3 separate regions of the Homo sapiens genome follow, and all the other regions are linked to region 2. The links come from fine-mapping of genetic effects on gene expression. A gene starts in region 2. Each other region holds a variant in brackets. All regions are shown on one strand. Distances are between the middles of the regions.

Evidence for each region. PIP is the estimated chance that this variant, and not a neighbour inherited with it, causes the effect.
Region 1: its variant is fine-mapped to the expression of ITGB1 in whole blood (TOPMed, PIP above 0.99).
Region 3: its variant is fine-mapped to the expression of ITGB1 in whole blood (TOPMed, PIP 0.95).

Annotation. Positions count from the first base shown.
Region 1 is chr10:32,981,750-32,984,515 of GRCh38, forward strand. It overlaps ITGB1-DT (ITGB1 divergent transcript), which reads left to right and starts at 802. Exons shown (of 3, transcript NR_184020.1): 1 at 802-936. The variant T/TGTG (reference allele first, on the strand shown) is at 1,531.
Region 2 is chr10:32,956,831-32,959,596 of GRCh38, forward strand. It overlaps ITGB1 (integrin subunit beta 1), which reads right to left and starts at 1,400. Exons shown (of 16, transcript NM_002211.4): 1 at 1,315-1,400. RefSeq lists silencers at 98-259, 653-1,102, 1,173-1,752 and an enhancer at 1,923-1,972.
Region 3 is chr10:32,634,604-32,637,369 of GRCh38, forward strand. It overlaps CCDC7 (coiled-coil domain containing 7), which reads left to right. Exons shown (of 44, transcript NM_001395015.1): 21 at 454-555. Among named protein-coding and RNA genes, the nearest start is that of CCDC7, 190 kb to the left of the region's middle. The variant C/T (reference allele first, on the strand shown) is at 1,185.

The DNA of each region.
Region 1 (2,766 bases), 25 kb after region 2:
CAAAGTGAACAAAGTCCTAATTCGGAGCCCATTGCTCTGCGGCCTCTCATGCCCTGGTAGGGCCAGGACCCCAGGGAATAGGATCTGGCCGCTGGGTCAGCAATGTTTGAAGGCTCCCATTTTATTTGCAGCCACAGCCAGCCAAGTTCACTGTGAGCAGCACTTCCTGCCTTGTTTGTGAGCTGCAGGCTGCATCAGGAAATAAAGTTTGTAAAATTACATTCTCTGGCTAAGCCTAGCCCTTTGTTGAAATAGCCACATTATCTATGACGACAGTGACAAGGCCAAAGGTGAGAAAATCTACATGAATTATTCTCTCAAAAGGATTCAGATAAGGGCAGAAAAGACCAGATGTTTCCTTTCTAAGTGACAAAGGGCTTGAGAATAAAAGGTAGGAAGAACAACTTGAAAGATTCACTTGGGCTTCTTTCTCACTACCTAAGAATATTACTAAGTTCCCTAAAAGCATTGCACCCCTGGATTCTAGTCTGTTTTATTTTTTTGAGATAGGGTCTTGCTCTGTCTCCTAGGCTGGAGTGCAGTGGCATGATCACAGCACACTGCTGCCTCGAACTCCTAGGTTCAAGTGATCCTCTCACCTTGGCCTCCCAAAATTCTGGGGGTACAAGCATGAGTCACCGTGCCTGGCCATCCCTGGATTCTAGATCTGGGCCTGGCACATAATAGATATTCAGTAAATATTAAACAGATGTATGAATCAGACAGTCCTGGTCGTCTACGTATCTTTATCTACTGAGAGTTTTGTGGGTTTTTTTGTTTATTTTTTTGAGACAGAATCTCACTCTGTAGTCACCCAGGCTGGAATGCAGTGGTGCGATCTTGGCTCACTGCAACCTCCACCTCCCAGATGCAAGCGATTCTTGTGCCTCAGCCTCCCGAGTAGCTGGGATTAAAGGCATGCGCCACCACGCCCAGGTAATTTTTGTATTTTTATTACAGACAGGGTTTTGCCATGTTGGTCAGACTGGTCTCGAACTCCTGGCCTTAAGTGATCTGCCTACTGAGAGCTAATTCAAGAAAAACTACTAAATTATAAGCTCCTGAAGGCAGAGATTGGGTCCTTATAGGACCTGGCAAAATTATCAGCAAAGGTTTCTTGAAATGAATTTGCCAAGAGCTCTTCTAGACAGGGGGAAAGTGAGGAGACATAAAAGCTAATAATAAAGATTGGAAAAGGACATATGTATGTATTGGACAAATCTAGCATTTCTTGAAAATTCATGTATTGATTCACTGATGACATATAAGCAAAGTTAAAGTCATCTTCAACCGTAAATGTTAATACTTATTCAGTAAGAGAAACAGCATGACTCAAGTCAATGGATTTAGGGACATTAATTTGGCAGTTTTAGGGCAAAATTCTAAGTGGTTGATGATAGTGAAAAATTGAATTGCCTTAAATGCCTAACAGTAGGGAACTTGTTAAATAAACTTGATGCTTTCATGCAATTATGTTTTCAGATAAAATCATGTTTTCAAAAACTATATATGGACATGGAGAAATTTAAA[T/TGTG]TTAAGTCAAAAAGATATGGTGGCAGAAACTGTTGACTTCCTACCCACACCACTTCCCTTCTCCTTCCTAACACCTCTTAATTTTGGTGGGCTTTCTATTCTCTGCACAGCAGTGTGCTTCAGGGGAGGCAGTCACCAGCCCTGCCCTGGGGAGTGAATCATCAGTGAGTGGTGAATGTGAATTCCCCTGGCTAGTGATCTTCTGAGTCCGGGGAGTATAATTCATTCCAGGCCAGTGAGGTGGATGAGAGTGGAGAGGCTTCTGGAAAAGCTTTCCTCTATCTTTAAAAGCAGGAAACAAAGTCATGCTTCCATTAAATGTTAGGAAAAGCTTCCCTCTATCTTTAAAAGCAGGAAACAAAGTCATGCTTCCATTAAATGTTAGACTCTACATGTGATAAAGCCACCATGCAGCCAGGCCTGAGGCTGAGCTGACAGGCCTGGGAATGTGGAAAAATGCAAAGGCCCCAGCTGATTGATCTGCTGATCTGTTGACTTATTAGCCTTGGAGGCTGCAGGTCAGTGACCAAGAGCCAGTTCAACAAACACCCACCCACTGCAAATCAGTTTCCACTACGGCTGATTTGCTGGATTTACTCGCTTCTTTTAACTATTTAGATATTGTTGACTGATTTTCATTTTGTCTTCATAAAAGCATTTAAGGAATATTAAAATTGTCTCAATTCTAGTTCCTTGTTGAGTAACTGAAGACTGACTTTTGATGAGTTGTCCAGCTAAATAACTCATCTTATTTCCAAACTTATTATGTGAGCTAATTTTTTCTTATAGTTTAAACCAATTGCATATTGAGTCCAGGTTTTCTCTTAATTACCACTAGAAGTATACTAATGGGATACATGTAGAATAAGAGAGAGAGAGAAATTGGGGGGAGGGGAGAGAGAGAAAGAATGAATTATTTCTGGGTTGTAGGATTGGGAATATAGCTGATTTATGCCTTTACTGTATATTCATCTTTGTATTTCTCTATTTTCTAAATTTTCTGTAATGAACATATATTGCTATTATGAACAAAGTGGAAAGTTGTTTGTTTTGAGACAGAGTCTTGCTCTGTTGCCCAGGCTGGAGTGCTGTTGCTCAACCTGGACTCACTGCAACCTCCACCTCCCTGGTTCAAGTGATTCTCATGCCTTAGCCTCCTGAGTAGCTGGGATTACGTGCGTGCCACCACACCCAGCTAATTTTTGTATTTTTAAGTAGAGACAGGATTTTGCCATG
Region 2 (2,766 bases):
AAAAGAAGGGCTGAAAAGGAGTCAATACTCATTGAGCATCTACTCTCAAGCTAAGTTTTTTACATTTTGCATTTGATTTTCAGAACTATAGTTAGGAAGGTTACTTGTGGTTTAAACGCGGACTCTGGAACTAGACCCCATGCCTTCTCCAGGAGCTCCTGATGACCACAGGCAACTTACTTTTGCTCCCTGTGCCTCAGTTTCTTCACTCGGAAAATGGGAATCGAAACAGTACCAATCTCATTAGAGCGGTTCCAGAATTAAATAATACATGTAAAATGCCTAGAGCTAAACTTGGCCCTCACTGTCATTATTATAAAAATGAATTATTAATGTAGATATTACTGTTCCTATTTCACAGATGAGGAAACGGAAGCTTAGAGAATGCAACTTACTAATGATCATACCAATGAGTGCAAAGTTTTGGACTCAAAAGCACGAATTTGATTAAATAAAAGTTACTTAGAGAGTAGGAGTCTCATAAATCCAATTTATGAAGCCTAAGAAATGACACGCGGTAAAATGATACTAGACACAGGCCGGGCTCTCAGGCTCGCGGACCGGGTCTGAGCACAAGCTGGCCATGGCCATGCGTCCTGGTCCCGGGGTGCCCGGCAGGGACCGGCGACTCTTGACGTTTATAAACACGGGGAAGTGGACTGCACTGCCGCCACCGCACCCCCGGTCCCCAGCGGCTCCACTAAGCCAACTTCTACCCGGCTCCCGCCGCCCCCGCCCGCGGCGCTGGCCCCAGGGCCGCCTCCTGGCAGCCGGAGGAGACCAGTCCCCGTCGCGGGCGCCGACGGCTGGCTCGACGCTGCTCCAAGGACAGCAGCTCGCGAGGGAGCGAGAGACAAAGGCACCGGACCCGTCCAGGGGAGCGCCGAGTCCCAAACGCCGAGCCCCGGGTGGCCTCGCTGGCTCCCACCTGCGCTTGCCCAGCCCGGCGGGAGACCGCAGGTGTCAGGGGCCGTTCGGGCCCGGTCCCCCGCAGCTCCGGCAGCCCCGACGTGACAGCGCCCAGGCCGGCGACCCTCACGTTCGGAACGCGGCTGGGCTGGCTCTGCGCCCGGGGGCTGCCAGCGCCGGGGACCCGAGGCGGGTGGCGGCGTGCGGACTTCCTCCTGGACTAGCCTGGAATCCTGCCCCAGCCCCCAACCGCTGGCGGCCGCCCCCGCCCCCGCCCCCGCCCCCACCCCCACGCCCGGCACAAAGGTCCCGGCGCGGCCCGGCCGGCGGCTTTAAGTGCTGCCGCGCACAGGAGACCGGAGGCCGCGGCCCGCGCTCCCACACCCGAGGCCCGCCGGCCCCTACCTTTTCCGCGCGGCGTCCGGGGCCCGGCGCGGTGGGCTCGGGCCTGCTGTTCCGCGACTCCCGCTGGGCCTCTCCCGCGGGCTGGCGGGGCCTCCCGGGTGTCGGGCGCGGCGGGTGGCGGCGGCTCCTCCTCCTCAGGGGCGGGAGGAGGGGACTCGGCGGCCCAGAGCCGCCCCCCGGCAGGAAACCAGCCGCGGCCCCGCCTCCTCTGCGCGTCTGATCCCGCTCCCGAGGCCGCCGCCGCCCTCTCCCTCCGGAAACGCATTCCTCTCCCGCCGCGTCAGCCCGGCCCGGGGCTAGGAGGAGGCGGAGGATGGGGCAGGAAGTGCGACCGGGACAAAGGAACCGGCTGCGCGGGAGCGCGCCTGAGGGAGGCCGCGGGGGGCAGGGCCGGGACTGCGTTGAGACAGTCGCCGTGCCTCAGTTTCCTCCTCTGCGAAGGGCGGGAGGAGTCGGACGCGCCCTAGAGCCCCGCGCGTTCCTGGTGTAGCCTGCTGGGCCCGTGTTCTTTAAGTTCCTCTTCCTCGGAGCCGCGCGTTCGACCCTCGCTCCCGTTTGTCCACTGATGTCCCGTTTCGAGCCCGGGAGATCCTGCATCTCGGAAGCCCCCTGAGTCCCGAGGCAAATCGGGACCGTGAGCCCCCCTACCCTGCAGGGCTCCATGGGGCCAAAAACCACGTGGTCCTTCTGGAAGGGAACTGGCTAAGCCAGGACTGCTTTTCTGGAGTGATAATGTGCTTGCCTGTGTCTAAGAGAAAGGTGAAGAATTGGGAAACCCATGGGTGTCACGAAGGGTGGTGAGACTGGGGAACGTTTTAGAAAACCTGGTGAGTTGCGTCCTGCTTTTGATAGATTTATCTGGAGGTACCTTTATGGGGAACAGGGATGAGAAGGAAAAGTTTCTTCCTAAGGAGTACAGTTTCTGTTTCACCTCTTAAAAAAAAAAAATTTGGAGATTGGGGCTGGAAACAACGTTTGAAAGAGAAGGAAACATTCATTATGAGAATGGCTGAACGCATGTCGATTCGATGATTGAAGTCTGTACCAGCCAAAATCATACTGAAACCCAGTAATTTAGTATATGCTACTGGCAAGCTGCTATCCTGGTAGCAGAAAATGCTGTGGGTTCCGCTTGGTGAGCTGCAGCACCCTGTTGGGAAAAGAGCTCAAAAATTACCAGATTTATGAAATAGAAGTGTTTCTCTTGCAGGAGATTAGGGACTGGAATGCCCATTTGGCTGCTGCCAATCAATATAAGAGAAAATGAAGCGATCACATCTAAGAAAATTTGCTCATTACTTACCAGCAAAATCAAAACTTGATTAGCCAATCTGAAGACCTCTAGGAAATGAGCACTATTTTTCCCACTTAATGGATGTTCAAGCTTAAGAGGCTAAATGATGTTCCTATATTAATATCTCAATGGTCAAACTGCCATTAGAACTCAACATT
Region 3 (2,766 bases), 320 kb before region 2:
TCAGGCTGGTCTCGAACTCCTGACCTCGTGATCCACCCACCTTGGCCTCCCAAAGTGCTGGGATTACAGGTGTGAGCCACTGCACTTGGCCCTTCACACTATTTTAAGTTAACTCATCAGAGGTCTTTTTTCTTTGCATCATGAATATTTGAACATATAATTTGTAGAAATTTTATACTTTGACCTAAATGTGAATACTGCAAAATAACTAGAGAACTAAAGTGAAAGCTTTAATACCTTTTGATTGGTATTTGCATAGTCAGTGACTACCATGTAACAAGATTGCCTCCACACATGAGAATTTTCTGCTTCGCATCCACGGTCTATTTTAACGAATACCTCACTGCTGTAACTTCCTAGTCCTATTCCATTAATTTTACACAAATGAGAGGAAGTATTGCTGATTACTTGACATATACAGAAGTTTTATCATAGATCTGTTTTTCTGTTCAGAGACTCTTACAACCCCACAATTGCCTGAGGACATGGTTTTAGTTTCAAGAATCCAATCTGAAACTAAAAATCTTAAAGCTACCAGAAATGAGAGTTTTCATTGTAAGTAGTAAGTTTAAAATGTTATAAAATTATTTTCAATTATATTAAACAGCTTTTTTTATGGTTCATGAATATATCTACAACTTTTTTTGTAATTATTTTGTGTATACTTCTAGATCTATACTGGTGTCTCTATAATTACTGAATTAGATGTGTTAATTTTTCCACTATGATTGTGAATTTCCTTGTTCCTTTTTATAATAATGTCAGGTTTTACTTTATATCTTATGACATTTTATTATTAATGTACATATAAATTTAAAATTAACAATCTTACTGGAAGAAATAAACTTTTTCCTAATGAAGGGACCTGCTTTATCATTTTTATAGCTTTTGTTTGTTTGCCTTAAAAACTATCATGTCTCCCCATAATCCCAGCACTTTGGGAGGTAAAGGTGAGTGGATCTCTTGAAGCCAGGAATTCAAGACCAGCCTGGGCAATGAAGTGAGACCCTCATTGCCACAAAAACAAAACAAAACAAAACCCAAAACAAACAAACAAACAAAACTATCACATCTGCTATTAATGTAAATCTACCAACTTTCTTCTGATTGGTATTTGCATGATACATTTTATATTTCATCCTGGTAACTTAACATTCCTCTTTGTGTTTTTTTTTTCTGTATCT[C/T]TTGCATGAAGCTCATAGTTGTATATTTTTCAAATTCAGTCTAATATTTTTGTCTTTTAATTAGCTCTCCTAAACACATTTAGTCTTATTATTGATAATTTCTATGTTTAAGTATACCATTTCTTTGTCCTTCCTATTTTATCTGCCTGGTAAGTTTCTTTTACTCTTCTTTATGCCCTATTACTTAATATCATTACATATTTTTTCCTTGGACAAATGATACCAAATATTTTAAACTTTATTCTAAAGACACCTCTGTGTATCTAAAAAGTAGCATAAAGCTTATACTTCAACTAGTTGGTCTCTACTAATAGTTTATTACCACAAAGTGTGATTTGCTTATATCATGTGAAGTGAGACAGTATTATTGAGTCATTAGCATATATTGCAAGTATAGTACTTAACACCACAGATCTGGTTTTCATTTAGTTCTTTTTTTTATTTTTTATTTTTTATTATACTTTAAGATTTAGGGTACCTGTGCACAACGTGCAGGTTTGTTACATATGTATACATGTGCCATGTTTGTGTGCTGCACCCATTAACTCCTCATTTAACATTAGGTATATTTGCTAATGCTATCCCTCCCCCTACCCCCACACCACAACAGTCTCCATTGTGTGATGTTCCCCTTCCTGTGTCCATGTGTTCTCACTGTTCAATTCCCACCTATGAGTGAGAACATGCGGTGTTTGGTTTTTTGTCCTTGCGATAGTTTGCTGAGAATGATGGTTTCCAGCTTCATCCATGTCCCTATAAAGGACATGAACTCATCCTTTTTTATGGCTGCATAGTATTCCATGATGTATATGTGCCACATTTTCTTAACCCAGTCTATCATTGTTGGACATTTGGGTTGGTTCCAAGTCTTTGCTATTGTGAATAGTGCCGCAATAAACATATGTGTGCATGTGTCTTTATAGGAGCATGTTTTATAATCCTTTGGGTATATACCCAGTAATGGGATGGCTGGGTCAAATGGTATTTCTAGTTCCAGATCCCTGAAGAATCGCCACACAGACTTCCACAATGGTTTAACTAGTTTACAGTCCCACCAACAGTGTAAAAGTGTTGCTATTTCTCCACATCCTCTCCAGCACCTGTTGTTTCCTGACTTTTTAATGATCGCCATTCTAACTGGTGTGAGATGGTATCTCACTGTGGTTTTGATTTGCATTTCTCTGATGGCCAGTGATGATGAGCATTTTTTCATGTGTCTGTTGGCTGCATAAATGTCTTCTTTTGAGAAGTGTTTGTTCATATCTTTCGCCCACTTTTTGATGGGGTTGTTTGTTTTTTTCTTGTGAATTTGTTTGAGTTCATTGTAGATTCTGGATATTAGCCCTTTGTCAGATGAGTAGATTGCAAAAGTTTTCTCCCATTCTGTAGGCTGCCTGTTCACTCTGATGGTAGTTTCTTTTGCTGTGCAGAAGCTCTTTAGTTTAATTAGATCCTATTTGTCAATTTTGGCTTTTGTTGCCATTGCTTTTGGTGTTTTAGACATGAAGTCCTTGCCCATGCCTATGTCCTGAATGGTATTGCCTAGGTTTTCTTCTAGGGTTTTTATGGTTTTAGGTCTAAT